7 linked regions of the Homo sapiens genome follow. The protein of the gene in region 4 purifies or fractionates together with the protein of the main gene of each other region. This does not show direct contact. Each region holds a gene or a part of one and is shown on either strand. Other genes may lie near its edges. The genes, in order: TRMT61A, AP1B1, ARMC6, AP1S1, TRMT1, NPEPL1 and NHLRC2.

Region 1 (5,011 bases), on a different chromosome or scaffold from region 4:
GGCTGTATGGTCCTGGCTGCCTAAAGCCCCAGGCTAGCCCTGGGTTGGGCACCCTGTCTAGGGGTGAGCTGGGGTTGACAGGCTGTGTATGCCGTGCTGTCTGTTGTGGGCACAGGCGAGGCCAGTGGCAACCCTGCCCTATCCTGCCTAGCGCAGGTATAGGGAATGAGAGCAGCCCAGCTGCCTGGAGCCTCCGGGGAAATCTGTGCAAGGGGGACAGGGAGGCCATCCCATCACTCAGCCCTGTCTTATTCCATGCATGGCCCATCACTTCCTCAATCCCCGTCAACAGTGGCCCACCCTGCCGGTCCTCATGCCCACCTCTCCCCAGAAGCTCCTTGGTCCCCTTGAGACAGCCCACCCCCACCAAGCCTGCCCAAACCTGCCCCCACCACACAGGGGCTGGGGCTCTGCCCTGGCCTGGTTGGACTCAGGACGCAGGGCCTGGCCACCAGCCACACGGCCCCAGTCCTCCCCAGCGCACCTGCCCCCAGCTTCCCTCCCCAGCTTCCCTCAAGATGGCCCCTCTGCTTGACTTCCTGTCTTATGGAGAGGGTCAAGGCTTGCATCCCTCCTCCCACTCCAGCTTCAGGGGCCATCTACCTGATGCCACTCCCATCCCCAGGCCCCTCCACTGGAGACTCCTGCTAGAGCAGCCACTGCACACTTGCCACCCATGCCTGGAACCCAAATAGCGCTGAGCATCGCAAGTGCTTGGGCCAGACCCATGGAGGTGCCTCCACTCCCTCTATCCCGTCCCACGTCCTGCCACCTCCCACATTCCTTTCAGGGGCCAGCCCCTCTCCCCACCTGTCCAGCCCCTCCCCTGGGTGCCCCCAGCCTGCTGCCTCGCCCCTCTGCAAAGCCTGGCCATGCCCCCTTCCCACTAAGGGGCAAGTCAGACTTGTTAGCCTCCGGGGTGGAGCTCGCTTCCCCTCCAACCTCACTCCCAGCCCCTCTGCCTCCCCCACTGAGCCTGACTCGGCAGCATGCTCCAACTGCAGGGCCTCGGCACGGCTCCTCCTTGGTGCAGAGCTGTCCCTTGGCTCTTCGTAGGTCCCTCCTCATCATTTTCAACTCAAATGTCCCCTCCTCAGAGAGGTCTTCCCTGCCTGGCCTAGCTGGAGAGTCCCCACTCTGGGTACCCCTCAGACACGCAGCCCTGTCTCACAGGCTTCACAGCAACCAGCGGCACTGAGATGCTCACCTAGGCTGTGTCCCCCTCCTCGAGGGCAGGAACCTGGTCTCTCTAGTTCACGGTTCCTAGGAGGGGACCTGGCATATCTGAGGAGGCCAGGAGAAGGTGCTGCTTGATTGAGCTCTCTCGCGAGAGTGGGGCAGGGGCGGAGAGGCCAGCACCCACCACAGGATGCACAGGAGCAGCAGCTGATGGAGTTGGCTAAGTCCTGCTCTCCACCCCTCCCACCCAGACACCCCAGGGAGGGACATGGTGACCTGCAGCCCTCAGAAAGCCAGCATGGCAGTGCTAGGCACTCTTCGTGAACCTGGACCCTAGCTCTCCTGCCCGGGAGGAACACGCCACCAACAACCTAGATGCATCAGCGCCTGGGGCCAATCTTGGCTTCAATCGCCACACTGGGCGGCCCCAGCACCTGTATATGTGCAGGGGTTCCCACAGCCCAGGCCCTGGACTCAACAATGGTGCTCACATTCATTGGTAGCAGGTGAGGATCTGATCATGGATGAGGATGGGGAAGGCTCCCCACCTACAGTGAGCTCCTCGGGGTAGCCCTGGCCTCTTTCCAGAAGGGGCAACTCTCTCTGCTTCACCATCAGCACGGAGGACTAGAGGTTGACGGTCAGTACCTAGGACAGCGCCAAGCATCAAGCTGGCCACGCCCCACCAAGGCAAGCAGGACCCTCACTAGAGCACCAGTCCTCCCCAGCTCCTCCTGGTCCATTTCCCACCACCTCTCACTCCAGTTACAGCACCAGCCTCCTAACGGGCTTCTCTGCCTCCACCTTCACTCCCTGCTGTCAGCATCCCGGAAAGATGTGAAAATAGAAACTGAGGAGCCACATGTGTCTGTAGGAAGGGCAGGCTGGAGGCTCTGACCTCCACCTTTGTGTCAATTTCTGCGTTAAACTGAGGCAGCCTGAGGAACTCACCAGACTCACAGACCACAGAGCCGGGCCGAAGCTCCAACATCATGGTGATGAGGGCGATGTCTGTGGAGTAGAGGATCTGCGTGCGGTGCGGCAGGTTCAGCGTCCAGAGCTCGGGCGTGGGGTGCAGCACATACACCCAGCCACCTCGGCCGCACGTCACCTTGGAGCCGAAGGGGCGGCCGATAAGGTCAACTGAGTGCCGCAGGACACCATGCCGGGTCTGGGTCTGTGCCCCACGCTGCACACGCACCGCCACCATTGCACCATGGCCCAGTGACAGGATGGCCGTGTCACCCTCCTTGATCAGCTCCTCGTATGCCACGAAGCTCATGGTGCTAATGTCTGGCAAGGGCCAAGGACCTGGGGAGGGGTGTGTGTAGGCATGAGCAAGTCAGGAGGCAGGATGAGGGCCTAGGGTCTAGGTAGAAGGCTTCGAGGCCTACATCCCAGCAGTGGGCATGGGCGGGGTGTGGCTAGCTCAGCCTCAGTCTCTGCCACTGCCTGACAGGGAGCCCAATAGCGCTGCACTCTGGCCTGGCCTCTGAAGCCTTTCTTGGTCTAGGACAAGAGACAGGGACTATGAGCCTAAATCAGAGATGAAAAGACTGAGGCTTGGCAATGGCGGAGTTCGGTCCCAAGGATTCCCGGAGTGAGGACCCGACCCTCCCATCACCCTTCTCCAGGAGCTTGACTCCCATTCCCAAGATGTGAGATGAGGAAGCGCCTTTGCGAGGTGTCCACCGGCGGGGGAGAGGCAAATGGTCAATGAGGTCACCTCCAAGCCAGGCTTGATTCCTCACCCCAGTCTCCCCCACGGGGGCTAGGTGGCAGGGTATGACAGAGGATTCAGGGCTCCCCAGTAAGGGGCTGGGGACGCGGAGCTGGCCGTCCACGCAAACACCGCCCAGCCGATGCAGAGGCAACAAGGGGCCAGGCCGGGCCGGCGGGGGCCGCCCATGCGAGGCTGGAGGGACAGGCCCTGCGCGCCGTGCCCGGCCCGGGTCACCCTCACCCGCGCCCTGCCACCCTGTACCCCGCGGAGTCTCACCTGCGACGCTCCTGCTGCCGGGGCTCCACACGTGCCTCCGCGACGCGCGGCGGCGGCGGCCACAACACTTCCGGCTCCGCGCCCGCTGATGACGTCGCGCCCCGCCTCCGCCTCCCCCTCCCCCCCTCCGCGCACGGGATCCTGGGAGCGCCAGGCTGCCCTTCCCGCCCCTCCCAGAGGACGTTTCCTGGGCGACTTCTTCCCTCATGTGAGCTGCTCTGTTTACATTTGCTGGTCGCTGGAAGATCGAAAGACTGGACAAAATCCATATGGCGGCCGGCCGGCGCGGTGGCTCTCGCCTGTGATCCCGCGCTTTGGGAGGCCGAGGCGGGAGGTTCTTCTGAGCTGAAGAGTTCGAGACCAGCCCGGGAAACGTAGTGAGACCCCCACCATCTCTACAAATAATAACAAACAAACAAAAGGTCCCCCCGCCCCGCCGGCCGCGGGTTGCCGTCGCACCCAGGCACATTTGAAGGGCGGCAGGAGCCAAGGCCTGGCTGTCACTGCTGTCCCGGACCCCTTTGACGGCCCCTGGGGGTTCACCAGAGGGCTGGCCCGTGGCTCACTGCCCAGTCCTCTATGAGGACACTTCGCCATAGACATTTTGTTATTGCAGACTGCTCTGGGAACACCCCTGACTGGGCCCTAAAATGAATTCCAGAAAAGGAATCGCAGGTCAAGGGGCGGTTCTAAAAGGCTTGGGCTAGGGTCAGCCAGAGCTCTGTGCAGCAGATGGGGGCCTGGAAAAGTCTGCAGAAGTGGCCTTCCGCCCAGGCCCTGCCTCCCCCGACGGGGGCACGTTGTCCTGAGTGCAGAGCTGCTTCTAGGAGGGAGTAGGGGTCCTGTGTCCCCTCCTGCGAACCAAGGCATAATGAGAACTGGATGACTTGGGCCCACTTTTGGGTCTGGTGAGCAGCCTGGGCAGGAGACTGGAGGAGGTGCTGCTGGAGGATGGGCAGAACAGGGAAGCGGGAGTGGCGTTCTGTCTCAGCAACACCATTCCCAGCTGGCTCCTCTGTGGAGTGTGTGTGCAGGGGAGCGGGGGCAGGGGACACGGATTTTCTTCCTCCAGCTCTTAGCTCTCAGGACCAGAGCTTGGAGAGGAACAGAGACCCCCCTACCCAGCCTAGGGTTTAGCCTGCGCCCGAACCCAAGCCAGTTAGCAATGACCCTAGGGCACCCTCCCCAGTCACTCAGCCACTCCAGCCTGGTAAGATGAGGTGGCCAGGCTCCTGCAGAGCGAGCTCCCCTCTGGAGCCCTGGCAGCCTGTAGAGCACTCTCAACTCTCTCGCCTCTGGGGCAGGCCAGGCCAGGCTGTTTGTGGCCCTTGCATTGGCTTCTCAGGGTCCATCATGGAAACCTAGGGGTCCAACCTCAGCCCCTCTGTGTCCCTGCCCTAGCTGCGGCTGAGAGCCCCCAGGAGTAAGCTGGTGAGAGGCCTTCCATGGCCTCCCACTCTCTGTGGGCTCCTGTCCCTGTGGGGCCACCACGCTGGCCACCAGCTGCCTCTACTTCTGCCTTACAGCCTCCCTGCCTTCTGCTCTCAACGTTGAAACAGCCCCCTCCACAGCTCCCGAACCTGTGTTCCAGCGGATGCTTCTCTCCCTTGATGATGCACCCGCCTGAGTCACCCCCTAATTTCTCCCCTGGGGGATTCTGACTTTCCACTTCTCTTGGGTTTCTCTTCCCCAGCCTCTCAGCTGTGGTTGGTGTGGAGTCAGGGCCGGGTGCCTATAAGGGCCTAAGGTAGGACTTGGTGACTCGGCGGTGGTTTCCCTTGGTTCCGACTTCCCTCTTGCCTCTCTGTCTATTACTGGCTGGTCAACTCCTCC
Region 2 (3,500 bases), on a different chromosome or scaffold from region 4:
TGGCTGAGCAGTGAGCTGCTGCTCCCAGGGCACGTGGTATGGTAGTGGGGGGTAGGCGAGAGCAGAAAAACCATTGAGCAGTGCTGGATCGGAGGGGTTCATGGCATGATCCCCTTCTTCCTCTGAAGTGGCTCTGAGTGGCAGAGCCCTGCAGCTCTGGGGAGGGGGATTGACCTTGAGTTCTCCTCACAGCTTTTGGTCAAATGGCTCAGTCAGCAGTGGGGACTTGACAGTAGCAACCATTGATCATTCGTGGGGACTTGACAGTAGCAACCATTGATCATTCGTATGTTACAGCAGGCCCTGTGGCTGGGAGTGGGGCTACACAGAGAACTGGGGCCTCATTAGTCATTTTCTCTTGGAAGACAGCACATCCTCCTGGTTGTAGCTTCAGTCTGGGTCTTAGTACTCTCCCGGGGGACCCAGAGATATTGGTCGAATTGGGTTATTAGGGAGGTAAATATGGGAAAGCCTTCTGAGTTCCTAAACCAAGGGATGAAACTAGGGCTTCCTGGTTGCAGTGTGGGTCTTTATACGCCAGTGCCCTTGGGTCACGGATTTAATGCGGCGTAGTGACTAGTAGAGCAGATCAGCGTGCAGGATTCCCTGTGCTATATTTAACATAGTAAATCTCTTAAGAATTTGTCCACGTCACTGAGACATGCCCTGCCCTGGTCCTGAGATGTGGCTGGGCAGCTTTTGCCAAGTCCTAATCGCAGAAATATCTTCCTGCTACCCAGCTCGGGGTCTTGCCTCTCCCATGGGGCACGACAAAGGCTCCTTGCTTGGCCAGGACCTCCCCGCAGTGTGCACAGCAGCACAGAGTACCCAGTTTTCTCCTTTCTCTCTGTCCTGTCTTCTCCCTTCCTCACCATCTGTCCTCGTATCTTTTCCTTCCTCCTCTCTGTTCTGGAAGGGCATAGGAGTAGGAGTCAGAGGCAGAGGATTCTCGCCCCACTCTCGTCTTTACTGACATTAGCCATGTGACCTAGTACCAGCCTCTCACCCTCTCTGAAGTTTCCTTGTTCAGGAAAAATGTGGTGGGTGATACTCGCGGAAGGCAGAAGGATGTTGCCTTTGAGGGAGGAACAATGACACATGTGAAAGGGCTCAGCTAGTGACAGCTCCTGCCTAGCGGTGCCTTCTCTGAGGCAGGCATCGATCATGCTGGATGCTTCTCGTCTCACTCTCACAGCAGGCCGATTAGGTCGGTGTCCATGTTGGGGTCCCAAGACCACCCTCATGCTCAGGTTTCACTAGCAGTACTCACAGGACTCAGCATATATTTTTTAAATATATATATTTTTTGAGACAGGGTCTCACTCTGTTGCCGAGGCTCGTCTTGAACTCCTGGACTCAAGCAATCCTCCTGCCCCAGCCTCCCAAAGTGTTGGGATGACAGGCATGAGCTGCTGTGCCCAGCCAGGACTCAGCATATAGCTATACCCACAGCAAAGATCTATCAGCAGCAGAGCAGGGCTGCCCGGCTGGGTCATAGGGGAGAAGGACACAGGTGGAGTCTGGAGGGTTCCATGAGAGGCTTCCTTGTACCTCCTCCTTCCCATGGGGAGTCATACAGAGCACACTCCTCCCCCAACAAAATGCAGCAACATGTATGTAATGTTTCTGCCCAGGAAAGCCTATTTGAGACTTCGGCACCCAAGTTTGTTATTGGGGGCACCTACACAAATTCCATATTCCCAGTAGGGAAGCATGTGTTCAGCATAAACTGTATTCTTTGTACAAATGGTCTAGGTACAGTTAAATACCTTTATCATTTAGGGAACAGTGAGAACACTTCAAAATCCAAGTTGCCACGTGCCAGGCCTTCTGAGGCTAGCAGTCCCAGACCTGCAGTAGTAACATGTTTCTGTACAGCGTCATTCCCATTTCATGGGTGAGGAAACAGGCCTGAGGTCACAGGCTGGGACTGGGACTGAGATATGTCTGATTCCCAAGCCCGTCCCATGGGGCCTGCTGCCTCTGGAGAGTGAGTGAGCCGTCTCTCACTGCCCTCCGTCTCCCTTCCGGCGACGTGCTCAGGCACACAGGAGCAGTCACAGCCTTGCTCAGGCCGGTTGCTGGGCCCTCTACCCAGGAGCTTGCAGCCATGGCAGTGACTCTGCCTTCACAGACATCAGGCTCCACCTCAGACCCCAGAAATGTCCCAGCAAATGTGGAGGGCATTTTCTCACAGGGCTTAAGCCTTGTTTTTTGCTCTCCGGGCATCCTGCCCCACCACCAGGCCTGAGATCCTGAAGCATGAGATGAAGGTGTTCTTCGTGAAGTACAACGACCCTATCTACGTGAAGCTGGAGAAGCTGGACATCATGATCCGCCTGGCCTCTCAGGCCAACATCGCCCAGGTCAGCTGCGTGTGATGGTCAGGACACGGGCTCAGTGTGGGACCATTCCACCACCACCAGACTGTAGGCTCTGGCCCAGGTGACCAGTCTCACCATTAACGGTTTATCTCATGAAGAGTGTTTAGCATGGGACATGGGGCTTCGTAAGCAAGTAAAAGAACTGATGTTTTTATTACTAAAGAATGTTTCTCCATGTTATCACCTGTCATCCCTTACAACGTGGTGTTGGATATGTTAGCTAAATCAACCCCAAACAAGGTTGTCCAGGCCTTCTTTCCTTTTCAGGCACCTGCCAGCTCTCTCCCTTGGGCCTTCTACCTGGAGCAGGAGGCAGAATCCCATTCTCCTAGGGAGTCTGTGTATATTCACTGCCCAGGAGTGTTCCAGCAGATTGCCCCATCAGGTGCCCCAGCCCCATCTTTTCTGTTTGGGCCACAGGTGTTGGCAGAGCTGAAAGAGTACGCAACAGAAGTGGATGTGGACTTTGTACGGAAGGCTGTGCGTGCTATTGGCCGCTGCGCCATCAAGGTGGAGGTGAGGCTCTGGGACTCTGTCCTTGGCTGGAGAAGGAAAAGGGGGCTGAAACCGGGAAACCAGTCTGATTCAAGCAGAATCTGCCAGCTTGCTTGTGGTCTGGGAAGGCCTGAGGCTCATCACTGGAGCCCCCATGGCAAGCATTGTGCAGATCTGGTGGGGTTCCTTCTCACTCTATAGTATCCTTTAGGCCTTCGAGTTGCTGCCGATCAAATTAACCCATCATAATCATGGTTCTCCTGCAGCATTTGTTAAGATGCTGGGGCAGCCACAAGTTAATGGACTTAGCATTCACTTCACAGAGCTCTGGGGTAAGGGCCCTGCCTGTTGAACACTTCTTGGCAAATATTGTCATCATTCAGCTGCCCACGTGCCTCTGTGTCCCAGCGTCCCAGGGCCACTCTAGACTCCTGTGTCCTGGCATTTTATCCCCGTCCTTTCTCTGTCTGTGGAGATGTTCCTCGACCACTAAGCCAGATTCTCCTTAAATGGGTCCACTGGTGGCTACAGTGTCCTAGGATAGGTGGTCGCCCCCGACCTATCCCCTTGAGGCGTGCTCACCCTGGAGCCTATGATGCCGTCCTGAGAAATCTCCTTCAG
Region 3 (4,324 bases), on a different chromosome or scaffold from region 4:
ACTAAAACAAATACAGCTCAGGCTTCTGAAAACTGGCCAAGAATCCAGCTCTTGGCAGGGAGTGGTGGCATGCTCTTGTACTCCCAGCTACTACTCAGGAGGCTGAGATGGGAGGATCACTTGAATCCAGGAGTTCAAGACCAGCCTGGCCAACGTAGCGAGACACTGTCTCTACAATAATTAGTAACAATTTTTTTAAAAAAAACCTAGCACTTAACCTGCCTCCCTTGTACAAATGAGTCCCAGGTTATAAAAAGAGGATGAGGAAAAGTTCTGCTTCCGATTCCAGCTGATCAGCTGTGACAGGAGAGAAACAGATAATGATCCCACAGGATCCAAAACCATCAGGTGTAAAACTGATGGGAGCCCAACAAGGGGTAGACAGGAACTCAGTCTACTGCTTGATCTCACATCATCAAGAGAAACCAGCAACACCTACCTCCTGAACAAGAACAAAATGCACCTGTGAAGTCATCGTGCCAAAATCTCAAACCCGAATCTGATCATGCATTCAGGGCACTTCCTGCTATGATGAAACGTTCTCTATCTGCACTGCCTAGTACAGAAGCCATTGGCCTCTGTGGCTATCACACAGCTGAAGTGTGGCAGTGTGGCTGAGGAACTGAGTGTGTAATTTTATTTCATTTTAATTTGTTAATGTAAATAGCCATGTGTGACGAGTGACTATGGTATTGCACAGCACAGCTCTGACACCTTAACCAACACCATGGGGATGTGATCTGCAAAATCCCTACTAGGGAAGAGAATGTCAACTAGAGGACAAACACCCAGAGTTTTCAACAAATAAATCACAAGAACAAAGAAAAGGAGACGGAGTCTACCAACAGATGAATGGATAAAATGGTCTGTGCGCATGGTGGTATATTACTCAGCCAGAGAAAGGAATGAGGTGCTGAAGCATGCTACAATGGAGATAGACCTCAAAAACATGATGTCTCGTCAAAGAAGCCAGACACGAAAAGCCTCATATTGCACGATTCCAATGACATGAAATATCCAGAACAGGCAAATCCACAGACACAAAAAGCAGACTGGGTGTTGCCAGGGACTGGAGGAGAGGGAATGGGGAGTAACTTCTAATGGGTATAGGGTTTCCTTCTGGGTGATGAAAACGTTCTTGAATTATAGTGATGATGGTTGTACAACTCTGTGAAAACGTAAAATCACTACATCAGGCCAGGCATGGTGGCTCACACCTGTGATCCCAGTGCTTTAGGAGGCCAAGGTGGGAGGACTGTTTCAAGTCTGGAGTTTGAGACCAGCAAGGACAACATAGTAAGGCCCCGTCTCTACAAAAAAATTTAAAAATATAGTCAGGTGTGGTGGCATTTGCGTGTGGTTGAAGTTACTCGGGAGGCTGAAGCAGGAGGATCATTTGAGCCCAGGAGTTCAAGGCTGCAGTGAGCTGTGACTGGGCCACTGCACTCCGGTCTGGATGACAGAGGGAGACCATGTCTCCAGAAGAAAAAAAAAAATTACTAAATCAAATGAGTGAATATTATGGTATGTAAATTATAGCTCAATTTCTTAAAGTGCTAATCTGTTTAAAAACAAAAAGAACTGAGCAATGACTTGTGCCTGTAATCTCAGCAACTTGGGAGGCTAAGGCGGGGGGATCACTCAAGCACAGGAGTTTGAGACCAGCCTGCGGCAACACAGTGAGACCATATCTCTTAAAAAAAATGTGTGTGTGTGTGTGTGTGTGTGTGTGTATACACACAAACCCACCTTATAAAATAAAAATAAGCAAGTAAGGCCAGGCATGGTGGCTCATGCCTGTAATACCAGCACTTTGGGAGGCCAAGGCAGGCAGATCACCTGAGGTCAGGAGTTCAAGACCAACATGGCGAAACCCCGTCTCTACTAAATATACAAAAATTAGTGGGGCGCCTGTAATCCCAGCTACTCGGGAGGCTGAGGCAGGAGAATGGCTTGAACCAGGGAGGTGGAGGTTGCAGTGAGACAAGATCACGCCATCGCACTCCAGCCTGGGCAACAAGAGCAAGACTTCGTCTCAAAAAATAAATAAATAAACAAACAAGTAAAACCCAGTATAGGCATACCCTGGAAACCAGGGGTAGGTATCAACACTTAGATGACCCACTAACCTTGGGCAGTACCTTCCACTCTGACAGGTGGGAACAAGACATAGAGTTAAGTAAGATAAAACTCTTGGTAAAAACACCAAATCCCTTTGCAATTCTGTTTCAAACCTGTAGCTCAGCAGTCCCAACCTTTTTAGCCTAAGGGACCAGTTTCGTGGAAGACAATTTTTCCATGGATATGGTGGGGCTAGGGTGGGGATGGTTTCAGGATTGTTCAAGCTCATTACATTTATTGTGCACTTTATTTCTATTATTGTTACATTGTAATATAATAATTATACTATTCACTGTAATGTAGGATCAGTGGGAGCCCTGAGCTTGTTGTCTGGCAACTAGACAGTCCCATCTGGGGGTGATGGGAGATAGTGACAGATCATCAGGCATTAGATTTTCATAAGGAGTGCCCAACCTAAATCGCTTGCATGTGCAGTTCACAGTAGGGTTCGTGCTCCTATAATTTAATGCTGCTGATCTGACAGGAGGTAGAGCTCAGGCATAATGCAAGTGATGGGGAGTTGCTGTAAATACAGATGAAGCTTCACTCGCTCACCCTACGCTTGCCTCCTGCTGTGCAGCCCAGGTCCTAACAGGCCAGGGACCACTGGACCAGTATGGGTCTGTGACCCAGGAATTGGGGACCCCTGCTGTAGATGATCTTAACCAGAAGGTCTTGACAGGGTACGAGTGAACCTAACATTTGCCACCGTCCCTTTGGAACAAAAGGAGGAACAGGCCTTAGGTCCAGAGCCTAACAGAGGTTAACAACTTTTTAAATTTTAATTGTTTCAATATATCCACCTTGCTTATTGCAGTAATATCAAGTTTCCGTTCTGGAATTATCAAGTTTCCACTTCAGGCCAGGCATGGTGGCCTGCACTTTGGGAGGCCGAGGCGGAAGGATCACATGAGGCCAGGAGTTTGAGACCAGCCTGGACACGTGGCGAAACTCCATCTCTATAAAAAATACCAAAATTAGCCAGGTGTGGGAGCATGCACCTGTAGTTACAGCTATTTGGGAGGCTGAGGTGGGAGCCCAGGGAGGTCAAGGCTGCAGTGAGCTGAGATCATATCCCTGAACTCCAGCCTGGGTGACAAAGTAAGACCTTGTCTCAAAAAAAAAAAAAAAGGAAAAAGAAACAGGTCACTCTGGCCCATGCTTCTCTTTTCAGGCAGTGGCATGGGATATACACATTCCATCTGTGTTCCTGCAGATGCCCACCATGGACTGCACACTGCCTGACGGGAGAAGGACTGGCTCGCAGCCAGCCTGCAGAACCCAGTTCCCATGCCCTCCACTTCAATGCCCTTTTCTTTTTTTTTTGAGACAGAGTCTCGCTCTGTCGCCCAGGTTGGAATGCAGTGGCACGATCTTGGCTCACCACAACCTCTGCCTCCTGGGTTCAAGCGATTCTTGTGCCTCAGCCTCCAAGTAGCTGAGACTACAGGCCCACGCCACCACGCCCAGCTAATTTTCGTATTTTTAGTAGAGACAGGGTTTCACCATGTTGGCCAGGCTAGTCTCGAACTCCTGACCTCAGGTGACCCACCTGCCTCGGCCTCCCATCATGCTGGGATTACAGGCATGAGCCACCACGCCCAGCCAGATACACTTTTCTTCAATTCCCTCATGTGTCAAACAGAGATAAACACGAATCTACTTCATAGGGCAGTAGTGAAAAATTCAGCCAACTCCTATACCTTCCTCAGAACAGGATATGGACAGGCTCAATAAATTAGCTATTTGTTCCTTTCCTTTGTTGCTTAAGAGGCAATTCAGCAAGTTTATGCAGGAGTCCCATCTCACTCTTTTGCAGATAGGCCCCTCTCCTTTCTGCCCCAGAAGAAAAGGGAGCTCTTTAAGGGCTGCTATGGATTTCCAAGGTTAAAGGTGAAGGAAGAGTAATATAAAGAGTTTCTCAGTAGGGAGTAAGGAGTAGGGGACTCCACTCCCACCACCCCGGCCAGGCCAGGAAATTCCTTGTGGCCCTCAAGATCTTTACCTGAAAACAATTTTGTTGAATGTCACCCTGGCAATGTAAATTGACAGGTGATCTTCACAAGTGCAGGACAGAAAGTCATCACCTGAGACAAATGCATATCCAGTTGCTCTCTCTGCCCTAACGTTTATGTAAAAATGCAGATTTGGCCTGGCTCCGTGGCTCATGCCTGTAATCCCAGCATTTTGGGAGGCTGACACC
Region 4 (2,975 bases):
GGTGGTAAAGTCATCTTTCCCCAGGGCTTGACAGAGAGAGGCCCAGCGGAATGCAATAAAAGAGCCAATTGTCTGCGATCAGTCCAGCGACCTCTGGTTCAAAAGAAAAAGGCGACCCGCAGAAGGTGCCACAACTCTGGGTGCCAGTGGGCTCCTTTTTCCCAAGATCCTGGGGCCGCGCGGGTAATGCCGGAGTTTCCTGTGTTCACCCACCCACCTCCCTCCACTGATCCCTACATTCCTGGTCCTAGGTACTTTGCAAGAAATGCGGGGAGGAGGGAGTGGCAGCCACAGAGACATGCTGGCTAAAGCCACTTCTTAACTTTTTTTTTTTTTTTTTTTTTGAGACAGGGTCTCACTATGTTGCCCAGGCTGGAGTGCAGTGGTGCAATCACAGCTCACTGCAACCTCGACTTCCTGGGCTCAAGTGATCCTCCTACCCCAACCTCCTGAGTAGCTGGGACTACAAGTGTGCACCATTATGCCCAGCTAATGTTTGCATTTTTTGTAGGGATGAGGTTTTGCCAGCTTGCTCAGCTGGTCTGGAACTCCTGGGCTCAAGCGACCTCCCCACCTTGGCCTCCCATCTTAAGCCTTTTCTAATCGCAGGTACTTGTGAACTGATTCAAATAAAACTAAACTGGGCAAACGAAATCACCCACAACAGACCCGCATCCTGAAGAGTTGCTCCTCCTTCCATAAAGGCAGCTCAGGGAGTTGGGGGCAGCCCGTTTGGAGACGCATTGGGCATAAAAATCCGTTTAAGGTAGGGTGGCCAGATAAAATACAGGAAATGAAATCTGAAATTCCAGATACACAACAGATGCAGTTTTAGAGTTAAATGTGTCCCAAACACTGCATGCAACACATTTATCCCTAAAATGATTTGTTGTGTATCTGGAATTCTCATTTAACTGCGTGCTCTCCGTTTCTTCCCAAGGCTGGCAGGATCCCCTTGGCCTCCCGATGATGCCAGCAGCCCTGCCTTCCTTCACAGAGCCCAAGGCCAGCAAAGTCCAGAAATGCTTTTACTTTTATTTCAGAAGAAAGGACATAAAGGCAGACACTTCCCCCTCCCCCTCCCCACCCCTCCCAGCTCCTGCCTCACCCAGAACTGGAGTGAAAGGCCAGGGCCAGGACCAGGGTCCCATAAAGCTTGCCCTTCCCCCAACCCTTCCTTCCCTCAAAGTGGCAAGGTTAGAAAAAAATTAACTATGTTGTTCCTCCCTGGCACTGGATAAAGGCCCCACTGCAGCCAAGGAGAAAGAGGGGGGTCCAGGCTCCCCTCCCAGGCAGAGAAGCTGCCTGGCTGGCTAGGGGGAGGGTGGAGGTAGGTTATGGGACAGAGAGGACAAGAAGTGCCCTGAACACCTTTTCCCTTTAACCTGACATATTTATATATTTACAGTTATTAGGGAGGGAAGGACATCTGGGGTGACATCAGTTCTGCAAAGGCAGGGAATAAAAGCCAAATAGCACCCCCATCTGGGTCACATTTTCCTGCCTCCTAGCTTCTAAAACCTTCAGTGGGAAAAGGGGAAAGTGGAGGTAGGGGGTGGAGGGAGGGAATGTTTGAAGGGCCTGAGCCCACAGCTCACTCCGAAAGGTGAGGCAGCAGAGGAGGGGCAGCCGAGTCCCACCAAGAACAGGGCCCTGGGCAGAGGAGAAGCAGCCGTTCCCGCCACGCTGCCAGGACCCCATCGCCACACCCCGGCCCAGCAGGGGCTATGCCAAACCCATCTCCTCCAGCACACTCCGTGGCGACTCATCCTCCTAAGGCAGAGACAGACAGAGGGTGACGCAGAGACACCAGGAGAGGCCGACAGGGTGGGCAAGACAGCAGTCACGAGGAAGAGTCAGACGGGGGAGGCACAGACACGGGGGAGGGGGAGAGAAGCCAATGTGAGCCCAAGGCCGGACCAGTGAGCCCTTCATGGGGCACCCACCAGCCTCCCAGGGCCAGCCCCAGAGCCAGCCAACAGTGGCAGGGGGGGTCCAGGTTGAGTCCGTCACCACCCAGAGAACCCAAAGCCAGGACCTTGGTAAGCAGGGGCCCCGCCTTGACACCTGGGGGTAAAGGGAGTGAAGCCGGGACAAGGAGGTGGGGGATCTTTCTGGGGCCCTGGGGGGTACAGCTGACTGGGTCCTGTTTTTCAGAGTGGGGAAAAGGCAGAGGGAGGTGAGTGCCAGGTCCCTGAGGGAAGGTGAACCAGGCTGCAGGGAGATGCGTCATTAGGGTCTGAGCGCAACACTGGTGACACGATGGGTGTGTGTGCCAGGGCATGTGTGTGTGTGTGTGTGTGTGCGCGCCAGGGTGTGTGTGTGTGCGTGTGTGGGAAGGTGAAGCTCGACCAGTGAGGTGGCAAGTTCAGTTCTGCCCTCTCTCCCACTGCAAAGATGAGCCCTCCCTCGCCCCCCATCTCTCCCCCTCCTCAGAGCCAGCTCAGGCCGGGCTCGCTCATCACTGCAGATTCCGGTGACTCATCTCCCTGCACCAGGGCTCGGTGATGGCACAGCAGAGAGGGGGCAGGCAGTAATGGGGTGAGGGCGGGGGCGCTGGGGAGCAGGGAGAACCAACATCCAGGTGCCCTCTGCCAGCCCCCAAATCCCCATAGCCTTTTCCTCCTGAGACGCAGAGGCTTTGGAGTATGTGTGTGTTAAAAAAAAAAAAAAGAAAAAAAAAAGAGAGGTGGGGGAAGAAATCAGGGAAGAAAAGAATGACCTACCAGGTGCCCCTTCTCCAATTCTCCAAGCAACCCTTAACTCCAGAGCAAACCCTTAACCCTTTGGTGTTAAGCCTTGCTCAGAGAATTGGACAAAGGAGACTGGGTGGCCACGAGACATCTGGGGGCTTGGGAGAAGGACAGAGCTTGGAATGAGGGGTGCACAGGTGGGCTATCTGCCACCCTACCTCCCACCCCATGGGGTCAGGGCTTGAGAGTAAGCTGGAGAGCTGGGCGTGGTGGGGGTCAGAT
Region 5 (4,324 bases), on a different chromosome or scaffold from region 4:
AAATGGACAAAAAGTTACCCCTGGTATGCTGGTAATGCTAATTTTCTTTTCTTTTGGGATGGAGTCTCACTCTGTCGCCCAGGCTGGAGTGCAGTGGTGCGATCTCGGCTCACTACAAACTCTGCCTCAGGTTCAAGCGATTCACCTGCCTCAGCCTCCCGAGTAGCTGGGACTACAGGCATGTGCCACCACACCTGGCTAATTTTTTTTTTTTTTTTGTATTTTTAGTAGAGACAGGGTTTCGTCATGTTGGCCAGGCTGGTCTTGAACTCCTGACCTCAGGTGATCTGCCTGTCTTGGCCTCCCAAAGTGCTGGGATTACAGGTGTGAGCCACTACGCCCAGCCCAGTCAGCAGATTTAGTTATTTTTATTTTTATTTATTTATTTATTTATTTATTTGAGACGGAGTCTTACTCTGTCACCCAGGCTGGAGTGCAGTGGCGCTATCTCGGCTCACTGCAAGCTCTGCCCCCCGGGGTTCACGCCATTCTCCTGTCTCAGCCTCCCGAGTAGCTGGGACTACAGGCACCTGCCACCACGCCCGGCTAATTTTTTTTTTTTTTTTTTTGTATTTTTAGTAGAGACAGGGTTTCACTGTGTTAGCCAGGATGGTCTCAATCTCCTGATCTCGTGATCCGCCTGCCTCGGCCTCCCAAAGTGCTGGGACTACAGGCATGAGCCACCGCACCCAGCTATTTTTTTATTCTTTTTGAGATGGAGTCTCGCTCTGTCGCCCAGGCTGGAGTGCAATGGCGCGATCTAGACTCACCGCAACCTCTGCCTCCCAGGTTCAAGCGATTCTCCTGTCTCAGCCTCCTGAGTAGCTGGGATTACAGGCACCCACCACCACACCATGCCCAGCTAATTTTTGTATTTTTAGTAGAGATGGGGTTCCACCATGTTGGCCAGGCTGGTCTTGAACTCCTGACCTCAGGTGATCCACCTGCCTCAGCCTCCCAAAGTGCTGGGATTACAGGCGTGAGCCACCTACCCAGCCCCAGTCAGCAGATTTTGAATCTCACTTGAAGAATGGGCACGAGTCTGTGTGGGGCAGCATCTGTGTTGTCTGCACACACATGTGCTTCCATGTCTGTGGGCAGCCCTGGCCGCTCCTGCATGTGCTTGCCCCTACCTGGGCTCCACACTGAGAATGCGGAACGCTGGGCTAGTCTCTGATAGTCGCTCCCGTTTCACCGGACATTCCTTCTCCTGGGGGCAGAGGTCAGAGGTTAGGGAATACTAGGCCCAAGGGACCTCCAGGTGACCACCACCTGCCCTCCCACCTGCATGAGGTCAGCCCTGCCCTCACCCAGCAACGCATGATGTCCCAGAGGGCAGAGGCAGGGGCATCCGTCTTCACAGCGTTCTTACAGGCGTGGGAGAGTGAGACCCGGAAGTCAGCGTGGAGGAGGGCCGACCTGGGGAACAGCAGGGATTATGAGGGAGATGCCGGACTCCTTGACCCCAAAGCCCAAGCTGACCAGCGTAGGTAAGACTACCTTCGGCAAGGGCTCATGGCTACAGAGTTCATTTCTTTTCTTTTCTTTTTTTTTTTTTTTTTTTTTTTGAGATGGAGTCTCGCTCTGTCGCTCAGGCTGGAGTGCAATGGCGCAATCTTGGCTCACCACAGCCTCCGCCTCCTGGGTTTAAGCGATTCTCCTGCCTCAGCCTCCCGAATAGCTGGGACTATAGGCATGTGCCACCACGCCCAGCTAATTTTTGTATTTTTAGTAGAGACAGGGTTTCACCATGTTGGCCAGGATGGTCTCGATCTCTTAACCTTGTGATCCGCCCGCCTCAGCCTCCCAAAGTGCTGGGATTACAGGAGTGAGCCACCGTGCCTGGCCTTCTTATTTATTATTTTTTTGAGGTGGAGTCTCACTCTGTCGCTCAGGCTGGTGTGCAATGATGCAATCTTGGCTCACTGCAGCCTCTGCCTCTCAGGTTCAACCAATTCTCCTGTCTCAGCCTCCTGAGTAGCTGAGATTACAGGGATGTGCCATGACGCCTGGCTAATATTTTGGTATTTTTAGTAGAGATGGGGTTTCGCCACGTTGACCGGGCTGGTCTCGAACTCCTGGCCTCAAGTGATTCGCCCGCCTCAGCCTCCCAAAGTGCTGGGATTACAGGCATGAGCCACCACACCTGGCCTTTTTCTTTTTCTAATTATTATTATTATATTTTAAATGGAGTCTCGCTCTGTTGCCCAGGTTGATGTGCAGTGGCGCAATCTTGGCTCACCACCGCCTCCTCCTCCTCCCAGGTTCCAGTGATTCTCGTGCCTCAGCCTCCCAAGTAGCTGGGACTACAGGCATGTGCCACCACACCCAGCTAATTTTTGTATTTTTAGTAGAGACAGGGTTTAACCATTTTGACCACGCTGGTCTTGAACTCCTGACCTCAAGTGATCTGCCCACCTCAGCCTCCCAAAGTGCTGGGAATATAGGCATGAGCCAATAAGCCTGGCCTAATTTTTTTTTTTTTTTTTTTTTTTTAAAGAGACAGGGTCTCATTTTGTCACCCAGGCTGGAGTGGCATGATCATAGCTCACTTTAGCATCAAACTCCTGGCCCAAATGATCCTCCCACCTCAGCCTCCTGAGTAGTTAGGACTATAGGCATGTATCACCATGCCAGGCTAATGGGTGTGTGTGTGTGTGTGTGTGTGTATACATACGTATGTATGTGTGTGTATATGTATGTGTGTGTACATATATATTTATTTATTTATTTGTTAGAGATAGGGTCTTACTACGTTGCCCAGGTTGGCCTCAAGTGATCTTCCTGCCTCAGCCTCCCAAGGTACTGGGATTACAGGAATGAGACAGTGCACCGGGTTCTCCCCACCCCCTCGCAAGTTCTATGCATGAGAATCCCTGGACTTGCCCCAGGCCACCCTGTGGTCTGGGACAGGCTCCTCCCGACCCCAGGGGCTCTTACCGCAACTGCAGGAGGCTTGGTGTGTTGCAGTGGATGGTGCTGCTCAGCTGGTCCAGGGTGTAGTACAGAGGCACGTCCGGGAGCTCCTGCGATGGGGGACAGGATGGGCATGAGTGGAGATGGACGGGCACAGGTGGAGCCCCCTTCCCCGTCACAGCCCGGCTCTCACCTCAGTGATGACGCTCAGGACCCCTCGGATCCGCTCCGAGGTGTGGAAGCGGCCGGGGTTAGCGCTCACAGCCTCCAGGACACGGCCCACAAAATCCAGGTCATGGATGGGCTCTGCCCACATGGGGCCACCAAGCTGGGGGCGCACCGGGGACAGGTGAGCAGGGACTATGACCTTCAAGACCCTCTTGCTCCTTTGCCTCCCCTGGCCTAGCCCTACCTGGTGTCGTTGCCCACAGTGTTCACACTCGGGGGTCACAGGGGGACCACAGGCTGCAGAGAACTTGGCCCTAAACAGAGAGGGGTGGTTGGTGGGGAGGGAGGAAAACCCTGGGACTCCCCTTCTTCTCCTTCCTCCCTGCTCACCGGCCGCTGGGGACTCCTGACGCTTTGCCGAGACGCTGAAGGTGGAAGGCCCCGCAGCCCACACACTGGAACACCAGCGCCTGCTTGCTGTGGGGGGTACCAGTGGCCACGAGTTCCCAGCGTGACCACGACACCCCAACTCCTCCCTTAGACTGGCTCTGTCCCTTAAGAAGCCCCAGATCCCCCAGGGCAAGGTCCTGTCTCCTCTCTCAATCCACCACCGCTCTCTGCCCCCGGGCTGACCTGGCTGAGGCCTTGACCTTGGCCTGGCCGGTGAAGACACGGACAAAAACACGCACGTAGAAGTCAGCGCTGATGCTGAGCAGCGGCACCACGAAGCGCTGGTAGCAGTTGGCGCGGAGGTCCAGGCTGTGCAGGACGATTCTCAGGGCCTGGGGGTGGGGGGTGGGTGTCAGCCTCCCCTCCACTATCCACCCACCCCACCAGGAGCCCTATGTGGTACTCACAAGTACAGGCTCAGGGCCAGCTCCCTGGGATCCAAGCCCACCCCTGAAAGTCCTGGCTGTGGGACCCTCAACAAGTGAGTATCCCCTCTCTGTGCCTCAGTTTCTTCATCTGCAAAATCACAACAGTCCCTGTCTGTGGCACTGCTGGGGGCACTAAACGAGTGAGGAAAGCATAGATCCAACCTATTCTGACCAGCATTATCGGTGTGCCATGTGGCATGTACTGAGGACCCACGTTCCAGCCCCCAAGGGCTCTGTGGGCAGGAAGTGGGGATACTAGGTGCTGTAGAACTGCTGGGGCCTGGGCCGGGCGTGGTGGCTCATGCCTGTAATCCCAGCACTTTGGGAGGCTGGTCAGGAGTTTGAGACCAGCCTGGCTAACA
Region 6 (5,111 bases), on a different chromosome or scaffold from region 4:
CAGAGCCTGCTGGACATATTCTGCGTCTGTGTTTCCTCCCAGGACTTCTCCCACGTGGAAGGCCTTCTTTCTCAATCTCTTCGCCTGTGGAAGTCCTATTACATCTGTCAGGGCATGGCCTTAGTCTCTCACCCTCTAGGAAGATCCTCCAGCTGTCTCAGTCCTCTGGAGTGCCGTGTGCCTGTCTGCAACGTATTTGCAAACAGAAAAAAGAGTGAGAGATCTTCATACACACTGTTAGTACCCTTTACCAATGTGTGAAAACATTCAGCTGCTGTAAAATCTTTTGAAGAAAATAAGATCCAATTAGCGTTGACTTTTATGTCGGGAAAGCTGAGGGTTTCAAAGGAATGCCTTTCAGTCATTCAACAGCTTTTTTTTTTTTTTTTTTTTTTTTTTTTTTTTTTTTTGAGTGCCTGCTCTGTGCCAGGAACTGGAGGAAAAAAAAACAACAAAAAGTCAAAAAGACCTGCCTTCAGGATGCTGAAGCTCTAGTCTGTGGTGTTTCCAAGGGGCCAGGGACCATGGCTCAGAGCTGAGCAGACAGACCTGGAGCCTGTGGACAGGGAAGGTGAAAGCCTGGCTTGTGGCTCCCGGGGCTACAAGTTAGGGAGCTAGGGGGCCAGCTGGGAGGTCAGTGGTGGAAAACCTCTCACACCACGCCAGGGAGTTGACAGTGCTTTTTTTTCTTTTTTTCTTTTCTTTTTTTTTTTTTTTTTTTTTCATTTTTAGGCTGGTTATGAAGAAGAAACTCAAAATAACAGGAGTGGCTTATGGAACTACATGGAGGTAACAGAGGAGGGTACCAACCAAAGGCCCTTGAGCAATCAGGATGTTGGGTAACAGATTTTTGCTTTTAAATGACTCCTGGGTGGAGCTTCCCCAATGCATCGTCATTCCCTGACCCTTGCATCTGACCCTGTGGGTGGGACCCTCCGCCTCCACCATCCACTCAAGGCTCACCCCTGGCTCCTCCACCACCCGGCTCCTGCCCCACACCCCCGATGGCCTTTCCTCCCCTGTAAGGCGACTGAGGTGACTCAGGTCACCCTGCTCCTTCCTCGTCTCATCTCGTCCCTCCTTTCCTGCTTAGACTGTGCCAGATGACCCTTCTTGCAAAGGGGTGGGCGGGAAGGCCCCCCATGCAGCCAGGCAGTGCCTGGATTTGTAACTGGCCATCCCAGCAGCAGTGCCCTGGATGGAAAGCCACGTCCCTGTCACCCTCTCACATCCAGGGCAGTGCCTGGCAGAGCGGGGTCTGATAAACGCCAGGGAACCTCCGATTAAGTGAGGAGGAAGTGACCGTCCACGCTGTACCCACCATGCCAGGCAGTGGGACAAAAGGACCTGACTCAGGTCCAAGAGTCACTGGGCCCCTCCGGCCTAACTGATGGGTGGCCAGGGTGCGGGGTCCCTGGGGATCAAAAGCAGCTGCTAAGGGACCTCGGGGGACCTGCTTGGGGCCAGCCTGAGGCCTGACCGGGCGGAACTGCGTCGGGTGGGCTTGGGCCTACGTCGGCCCAGGCCCCACTGGAGGCCAGGCCCGTCCGGGAGGCGCTGCCTGGCGGGCCACGTCGCCCCGCGTGTTGGGCAGGGCCGCTAGGCCCAGGGGCGGCGCCGCTGGAGGCCGGGCGCGCGGGCCCTACTCGGCAGGGCCTGCTCGGGGCCGGCTTCGGGCCTGCCCGGCCGGGCCTGCCCGCACCCTTCCGCCCGGCCTGGCCGGCGCCCCCTCGCGCCCCGGGCGGGCCCTGCACGTCTCGCGAGCAGCCCGGAGCGGCGGGGGAGGCGGGGCCCGCGGGCTGCCGGGCAGGGCCGGGGCGGTGCCGAGGCCGGGCCGGAGCGGGGCGAAGGGGGCCGAGCGGCGGGCCGGGCCGGGCCGGGCAGGGCCGGGGCGTGGGCCGGCAGGAAGATGGCGAACGTGGGGCTGCAGTTCCAGGCGAGCGCGGGGGACTCGGACCCACAGAGCCGGCCCCTGCTGCTGCTCGGGCAGCTGCACCACCTGCACCGCGTGCCCTGGAGCCACGTCCGCGGGAAGCTGCAGCCCCGGGTCACCGAGGAGGTGAGCGGGCCGCCGGCCGCCATGCGACCCGCGCCGCGGAAGCCCAGGCCCGGGCGGCCCGCGGAGGCCCCGCCTCGCCCGCCGCACCCCCGCCGCCGCCGGGCCGGGCCCAACGAGGCCGGGCCGCCTCCCTGAAGGGCTCAGCCGCCAGGCCAGTCCTCGCCCGCGGAGGCCCAGCCCCAGGCCCCGTCGCCGGTGCGGCGCGGTGGTCCTCCTGTCAGCCCAGCCCTGCGCCCCGCGAGGCCGCGACACCTGCGGACGGCGGGGGGGGAGACGTGGCCGCTCCCAGGGCCGCGCGTCGGCCCCGCCTGGCGACAGGCCCTGGCTTCCAGAAGTTCCCATGGCAGTGTCCCCAGCTGCCTTTCCTTGGGGACACCTGGCCCCTGCCCCCTCTCTGGTGGAAGCCGCCTAAGCCCTATCCGAGTGTTGGAAGCAAAGCAGCCCCCAGCCTGGCCCTTCCAGGCTTGGTGGCTTCATCCCACCAGGGGGATGCGAGCCAGCCTAGAGACAGTTAGCTCTGCAGAGAGGCGACACATCTCCCTAAGGATGGGAAAACGGTGGCCGGGAGCTGCGCAGTGCCCTTCCAGGACTGCAGGAGTGGTTGTGGCCGTGGCTGCAGGGCAGGGCCTCCTGGCACGTGGCCGCTGTTTGAAGCCTCTGTGTCTTGTCTCTCCCTTCTGATCTAGCTCTGGCAGGCTGCCCTGAGCACGCTCAACCCCAACCCCACGGACAGCTGTCCCCTCTACCTGAACTACGCCACCGTGGCTGCCCTGCCCTGCAGGGTGAGCCGGCACAACAGCCCCTCGGCCGCCCACTTCATCACGCGGCTGGTGCGGACCTGCCTGCCGCCCGGAGCGCATCGCTGCATTGTGGTGAGTGCTTCGAGAGGAGGCAGCCACGGTGCTCCTAGTCGGGCAGCGGTGAGCTCGGGCCTGGGGAGCTCACAGCCCTGCTCAGACTGCAGCGCACGCCCAGAGGGCTGTGGACGTTATCATCCCTGCTCTGTAGACAGGGAAACAGGTCCAGAGAGACGCGGGGATTTGCCCCAGATCAGTTTTGGTGGCAAATCAGAGACTCAAACCTAGATTTCCTGAGGCCCACTTTGTGTCTGTCCCTCTGTCCCTCATTTTCATGGCTGGTCAGGCTGTTGACATCTGGTGGCCAATGTGTTATTTCTCTTGGAGCATGACCAATGGTGGTCCCATGGTTCCGGGGATGACCTGAGGGATGGGGTGGCGGCTGCTGTGGGACATCTCTGTCTAGATGTCACCTGCCAGGGAGCTGATGTTCCGGAGGCGTTCAAAGAGCAGCTCCCTGCACTCCCTGGTGGCGGCCCTTGCACCCCTCACGCCGTCTCCCTATGTGCCACAGATGGTCTGCGAGCAGCCGGAGGTCTTTGCTTCCGCCTGTGCCCTGGCCCGGGCCTTCCCGCTGTTCACCCACCGCTCAGGTGCCTCTCGGCGCTTGGAGAAGAAGACGGTCACCGTGGAGTTTTTCCTGGTGGGACAAGACAACGGGCCGGTGGAGGTGTCCACATTGCAGGTGGGTGTCTGGAAGGGCAGACACTGCCCCTGGGCCCGGGCAAGATCGGGCAGGTGGGAGGGAGGTCGGGAGAGGGAAAAGCTTGTTGCGGGGGCAGGAGGGGGTTCCTGCCCTTCCCAGGAGCTTTGGTTCCTGGGAAGCGGCAGAGGCTTTTCCAAACCCAGGCCCCCTGCCTCTGCCTCAGCGTGGTCTGTGACTTCAGGATTCTGTTGTATACAGGCAGTGTTTGTTGAGCACGTAATCAGTGCCAGGAACGTCCATGCTGTTTTCCAAATAACCCTGCCCGTTTATGTGAGCTCCGTGTGCACGTGTGTGATGTATGCACGTGTGTGTGTATGTGCGTGCACATGTGTGTTGCTGTGCGTGTATGAGTGTATGTGCATGTGTTGTATGTGTGGGGGGTGTGTGTGTGCATGTGTGATGTGTGTGTGTGTGTGGTATGTGTTGCTGTGTATGTTTGCTGGTGTGTGCATGAGTGGTGTGTGTGGTGTACGTGTGGTATGTGTTGCTGTGTGTGTGTGTTTGCTGGTGTGTGCATGAGTGGTGTGTGTGTGTGGTGTGCATGTGTGGTGTGTGCATGTGTGGTGTGTGTTGTTGTGTGTGAGTACTGGTGTGTGCATGAGCAGCATGTGTTGCTGTGTGTATGAGTGCTGGTGTGTGCATGAGTGGTGTGTGTGTGTGTTGTGTGTGTTGCTGTGTGTGTATGAGTGCTAGTGTGTGCATGAGTGGTGTGTGTGTGGTGTGTGTGCATGTGTGTTGCTGCACCCTTTACAGGGAGCACTTCTACATGTGTTATTTCACTCAATGCTGAGAATGATCCTTTTGAGGCTGCAAGGCCGGAAGTGATTTCCCAGCTCCAGATCCTTGGATGGGCCTGACATCAGGCTCCTGTCCCCACGGCAGCGGTCCCAGCCTCTGCGCCTGCCACCTCCAGTCCCCGAGCCCACAGCGCCACCCAGGTTGTCTTTTCTCATGTGTCAGCGCTCATTCTTCACTTCTGGCTCTGGAAGGCTGTCGCCTTCACCCAGGCAAGCTCTCCCACATCAGCACTTGGGCCACACCTCATTTCTTTCACTGTGTGCTCTCTGAGGCCTGTAACCACTGCCCCTCAACCCAAATTCTTCCATCTTCACCAGCATGAGATAGCTCCCCTTTTTTCCCTTCGTCTCTGAGCTTTTAAAAAAGTCTAACTGGTTTGCCTTGCTTAATCCTCTTTTCCCTCTTAACCCATGGAGACAGAGTTTTTGCCCCCATCCTGACATTGTTTTCTAAGGACTGCTGGATGGGGTGTTGCCGTCCCTCCTTGAAGTGCATCTGCCCCATCCAGAGGTCTCCCTCCCTCCCGCTGCTCCCCAGACTGCTGCCACCTCTCGGCATCCCCTTCATGGCCTCTCCAGCGTTCCGACCTGCTCAGCCCTCTCCGGGTCAGACACCAGCATCTGCCTCTTCTCTCTGTCTTTAGGGATTTTCTTCTGACTTCCAGGCCTGCCATCCAGGTGGGCACGGGTGC
Region 7 (4,324 bases), on a different chromosome or scaffold from region 4:
CAGTGGCGTGAGCTTGGCTCACTGCGAGCTCTGCCTCCCTCCCGGGTTCACGCCATTCTCCTGCCTCAGCCTCCTGAGTAGCTGGGACTACCCCACTACCACACTCGGCTAATTTTTTGTATTTTTAGTAGAGATGGGTTTCACCGTGTTAGCCAGGATGGTCTCGATCTCCTGACCTCATGATCTGCCTGCCTCTGTCTCCCAAAGTGCTGGGATTACAGGCGTGAGCCACCACGCCTGGCCAATTTCTTATATTTTAAATCAAACAAAGAAAATAATACTGAGCTATTTTAATGTCCAAATCTAGAAATAAAACAGAAAATGTTTCTTTAGATATTTGTCATATATATCACACACACAATTTGTGAAGTTACAACACATGTGGTGCTTTTATGCTGCCTTTTTTTTTTTGGCTTAAAACTTGCATATATTCTAACTTCTTTAAGATTATACAGACCAAAATTTGGCTAAAAATAAGTGTTTCTAAATAACAAGCCAAAAGAGAAAATGTCCTTTAAACATAAGTGTACAAATGTACTCTATAATATTCAAAAACCTTAAATTATTAGGATTATTGCCTGAAAATTATCTGCTACTATATAATAAAAATGGGGCCCATATCTTGGACAAATTAGATAAAGTCTCTATAGACTACTTTATTTGAATACTATCTGTATTTTATATCCCAATGACTCAATATTAATTAGTGTGTCTGACAATGCAGACCAATGTTAATCTGTCAATATCCTATTTTAAAAATTAGTACACTGCTCCTACAGTGACACCATTTAATACACTGCTCTAACAGTGACTGCTCTTACAGTTACACTGAGAAAAATTAATGTTCTCCAACTGATGTAATACTTCCAGACTTAAATTGGCAGTCTAGAACTTGCTCTGAACCTACAAAAGGCTATGGAGTGGCCAGGGTTTGAGTATTCTTCTGTCTACAAAGCAAGCTCCAAAGGTCCTAGTACATGGTTAGCCTTCCCCCTTGTGGGAAGTGACAAGGGGTGGTTTCCCTACAGACTCAATCACCCTAGAACCAGCCTCCCAAACACTAACCAGCAGTTCCTCCCAGCCAGTCTACCAAGATACCGTTATCCTCTTGGTTTAGACACTAAGTTGATATTATAATTGCAGGCCAGTGGCTGCTGCCCTGAGAAAGTTGAAGGTAAGAAGGAATGAATTACCCAGGATTTGGGTAATGTACAAAAGAAAAGTGTGTGAGAGGGTATGAAGGAGGAGGAGTTGGGAAGGAAATGGAAAATTGAGTGAGAAAGTGTGAAAGAGCGTGGGAGACCAGGACAGAGGAATATCATTAGAGACAAGTTGTAATTTAGAAGTTCTGAACCACTAAAATTTCACTTTAAAATTTTTGTCCACCAGGTTACAGATGTTGGAATGCATACTGCAAGGCAAGCAGTATACTGATTCCTTACCATAGATTAATGAAATAAGGAGCTAGCTCATACTGTGATTCACAAATAGAAGAAAGGGAGGAATGCCCAAGAGTGACTGAAAGGAAGAGTCACAGAAAAAGATGTTAAATACGAGGGCTCCACTTTCTCTATTTCAGACTTTTTAACTCTAAGATTCTTTTTGGAACAAGAATAGAATGAAGAACAGGATCAGAATAAGGGATGAGGTATAGGAAAACCCACATTCCAAGAAATCATGCTAACAACTGACTTGTAACTTTTGGTGAGTTACACTGTTCTTTAATAAAAGGGAAGAAAGACTCTTGATGAGTAAAGCAAATGGCCAATGTGGGGTTGGATCTGGATTCATTTGTTCATATGATCTTCAAATCTTGCCTATACAGAGTAAAAATATCACCTAACAAATAAAAAATAACTAGATTAAACATCAAGAATATATGATGTATTAGTATTTGCAAGCTTATACTCATACCTTCAGCTGTTAGAAACCAGCAACTGGATACTCCTTCAGTTAGCTTTGATCCTGATGGGAGGTCTAATCTGAGTTTGAACTGAAGAGTCTGGCCAGCACACGCAGTCACGGGGGAAAGCCTAATGCTTGGAGCAGATTTAGGTAGTTTGGGTAATGTCTTCTGTTTTTCTACTAGGAACGGGCCATCTACCACAGCATTTTCAGATCTGAAGATGGGGAGCTAGGAAATAAGAAAATCTGTTATTAAAACACAAGAACTTTATATTAATTATAGAATGAGAGCATATTTTTAGACTTTAGTAGAATAATGAAGTTCTATGTCAATGAAACTAATCGCCATTCTAGTTTGAATTAGAATGTGTTAGATGCCCTCAAGATTATTTTCGTAGACACAGAGAAAGTTTATCTTAGCGACAACAACAAAACCCAACACTTATGAATGAGGCAGAATTAAAGTAACTGTCCAATGTATATAGACGGCAGGAAATTAAAGCAAAAGTTTATAAATTTAAACATGCTAGATATACATTTTCTTATAATTTTCATTGTCAACTATAAGAAGATGTTATTCATCTTATATCAGAGATCTACGTGAAGAGAAATGACATTTATGTTGCAATAGTAATCTATGTTTCTTTTAAAAATATACCGTGCAAATTACCAGTTTTTCAGAAAAAAACTGTTGCATTTTTTTCAGGTAAATGTCATACATCAAGAGTTAGTTTATAATAGACATTTCCCCTTGAAAATTCTATAAGAAACCACGTCCATATCTTTAAAAACTGACTATAACTCATTTAAGTTTCTTCCACAATCTTATTTTCGATGTCTTGAGAAAGTGGCTTCTAAAGCTTTTGTTAGATTATTTGGTAATGGATTCATCACAGGCAAACAAAGGTTACATGTTAATCTAAAGATCACTGAAAAAAAAAAAAAAACAAAAACAATAAGCTAAATAACCCAACCCACAGAGCAGGTGTATGTAGTGTATGTCAGTATGTCTGTACACTTAAAAACAGATCTGAGTCCTCTCCTTTTTTTTTTCTTGAAGGTTCATTAGATTATCTCCAATTTCCAGTATTTTTCTCAAACTCTCAGCACAGATGGAACTTTTATTTTAAGAATAAAAGGATATCCTTAAAGCAGTCCTGCTGGTCTCTTTGTCAAAGAATACAACAGAAGCATCCACTTAATACTCTCCTGGAGATGGTCTAACCAAAAATGCCTCTGTCAGTGCTGTGAGGATCTTAGTATCATTCTTAAAACCACATTCTTTAACTTATATTTTAAAATTACTTACCACAGATACCATTTTAGTTTCTAAATCCATCACTTTAATTTGATGATTATTGGTGTCTGCTACATATAATAATTCTCCATTCTCTCCAATACACAAGCCTCCTGGTTCATTAAAAGTTGACTCTGTAAAACTGGAACTGGTAACATTATTTGTGTCTCCAGTTCCTGCTAATGTTGTACAGTTTTTTGTTTTTGGATCCACAACTTTAATCTAAAAAAGAAAGAACAAAAACTTATATAACTGAAGATCAATCTCATGTTTGTTGTATGGAAGAGTATGGTATCAAGCAAGCTAATTTCTGATTGCCATTAATATTCTCAATAAGTCTCACAAAAGGAATAGTTATTTCCATATTTTCTTGAAAAGCCAAACATTCAAATTGCAGTCTAAGGGGAGATATTCTATTCTAAGAACTAAAGACTATGTAAAATCCTTAGCTCCATCTTGTCTTCTGGAAGCAATCTTTGATGAAGTTATTTCTGGAATTAAAAAAAATTTTTTTTTATTGAATTGTTTTTCTTCACAATGGGACACACTTTCACAACTGAACTGACTTTGTCTTCCTGAGCATCTAGCATTGCCTGAGAATTTGCTACCTTTGTTAAACTTAATGATTGACAGTTATGTCTCAATTATATTAAATTTATGGTCTCACATCATGAAGTACTGCATGAACATTTATTATCCACTGATTTTTGTAAAAAGTAAAAATGCAATAAAACTTAAGACAATTTAATAGACAAAAATGGAAATGCTGAAAACAAAATTATTTACTAACAAGCACTGTAACTATGCAACAGCTCAAAAACGTTCATTTGTTAGATGACATATAAATTTCCCTGCTACTTGCCTTCTCTTGATATACTGAATATGTTACTAAGCAGCTTTGATGGGTTGCAATTCACAACTGTTGGCTATTGCCATTGGAACTGGTTCTGTGCTTTCCCTAGTTCAGAATACCATCATAACCTCTTGGCAAAGAAAGGACCAAGAAAAGAGCAGAACAGGCTGGGTTATAGTTGTCAAAGACTGTTACTCCTTTCTATATTTTAGAGTGGCAGTTGTAGGAGGCTCACAGATCTTTCAGCATTTTAAATGCCACACACAAAA

The links.
Region 1: the proteins of AP1S1 (region 4) and TRMT61A fractionate together in Homo sapiens (co-fractionation; one large-scale study listed by BioGRID). This does not show direct contact.
Region 2: the proteins of AP1S1 (region 4) and AP1B1 fractionate together in Homo sapiens (co-fractionation; 6 studies listed by BioGRID and IntAct, with this or other methods). This does not show direct contact.
Region 3: the proteins of AP1S1 (region 4) and ARMC6 purify together in Homo sapiens (affinity purification with mass spectrometry; one large-scale study listed by BioGRID and IntAct). This does not show direct contact.
Region 5: the proteins of AP1S1 (region 4) and TRMT1 fractionate together in Homo sapiens (co-fractionation; one large-scale study listed by BioGRID). This does not show direct contact.
Region 6: the proteins of AP1S1 (region 4) and NPEPL1 fractionate together in Homo sapiens (co-fractionation; one large-scale study listed by BioGRID). This does not show direct contact.
Region 7: the proteins of AP1S1 (region 4) and NHLRC2 fractionate together in Homo sapiens (co-fractionation; one large-scale study listed by BioGRID). This does not show direct contact.

Annotation. Positions count from the first base shown.
Region 1 is NC_000014.9:103,527,429-103,532,439, reverse strand, and holds the start of TRMT61A (tRNA (adenine(58)-N(1))-methyltransferase catalytic subunit TRMT61A), read right to left. Parts: upstream 3,245-5,011; 5' UTR 3,179-3,244; intron 2,491-3,178; 5' UTR 2,462-2,490; coding exon 2,131-2,461; intron 1-2,130. UniProt on the Homo sapiens protein: Catalytic subunit of tRNA (adenine-N(1)-)-methyltransferase, which catalyzes the formation of N(1)-methyladenine at position 58 (m1A58) in initiator methionyl-tRNA.
Region 2 is NC_000022.11:29,350,571-29,354,070, reverse strand, and holds part of AP1B1 (AP-1 complex subunit beta-1), read left to right. Parts: intron 1-2,245; coding exon 2,246-2,366; intron 2,367-2,804; coding exon 2,805-2,900; intron 2,901-3,500. UniProt on the Homo sapiens protein: Subunit of clathrin-associated adaptor protein complex 1 that plays a role in protein sorting in the late-Golgi/trans-Golgi network (TGN) and/or endosomes.
Region 3 is NC_000019.10:19,036,308-19,040,631, reverse strand, and holds part of ARMC6 (armadillo repeat-containing protein 6), read right to left. Parts: intron 1-4,324.
Region 4 is NC_000007.14:101,159,317-101,162,291, reverse strand, and holds the end of AP1S1 (AP-1 complex subunit sigma-1A), read right to left. Parts: intron 2,820-2,975; exon of another isoform or gene 2,737-2,819; intron 1,774-2,736; coding exon 1,726-1,773; 3' UTR 1,016-1,725; downstream 1-1,015. UniProt on the Homo sapiens protein: Subunit of clathrin-associated adaptor protein complex 1 that plays a role in protein sorting in the late-Golgi/trans-Golgi network (TGN) and/or endosomes.
Region 5 is NC_000019.10:13,106,441-13,110,764, forward strand, and holds part of TRMT1 (tRNA (guanine(26)-N(2))-dimethyltransferase), read right to left. Parts: intron 3,867-4,324; coding exon 3,718-3,866; intron 3,562-3,717; coding exon 3,475-3,561; intron 3,399-3,474; coding exon 3,329-3,398; intron 3,245-3,328; coding exon 3,110-3,244; intron 3,027-3,109; coding exon 2,941-3,026; intron 1,420-2,940; coding exon 1,311-1,419; intron 1,211-1,310; coding exon 1,134-1,210; intron 1-1,133. UniProt on the Homo sapiens protein: Dimethylates a single guanine residue at position 26 of most nuclear- and mitochondrial-encoded tRNAs using S-adenosyl-L-methionine as donor of the methyl groups. tRNA guanine(26)-dimethylation is required for redox homeostasis and ensure proper cellular proliferation and oxidative stress survival.
Region 6 is NC_000020.11:58,690,992-58,696,102, forward strand, and holds the start of NPEPL1 (probable aminopeptidase NPEPL1), read left to right. Parts: upstream 1-1,808; 5' UTR 1,809-1,909; coding exon 1,910-2,059; intron 2,060-2,745; coding exon 2,746-2,931; intron 2,932-3,430; coding exon 3,431-3,601; intron 3,602-5,111. UniProt on the Homo sapiens protein: Probably catalyzes the removal of unsubstituted N-terminal amino acids from various peptides.
Region 7 is NC_000010.11:113,902,627-113,906,950, reverse strand, and holds part of NHLRC2 (NHL repeat-containing protein 2), read right to left. Parts: intron 3,425-4,324; coding exon 3,215-3,424; intron 2,135-3,214; coding exon 1,915-2,134; intron 1-1,914. UniProt on the Homo sapiens protein: Required for normal embryonic development.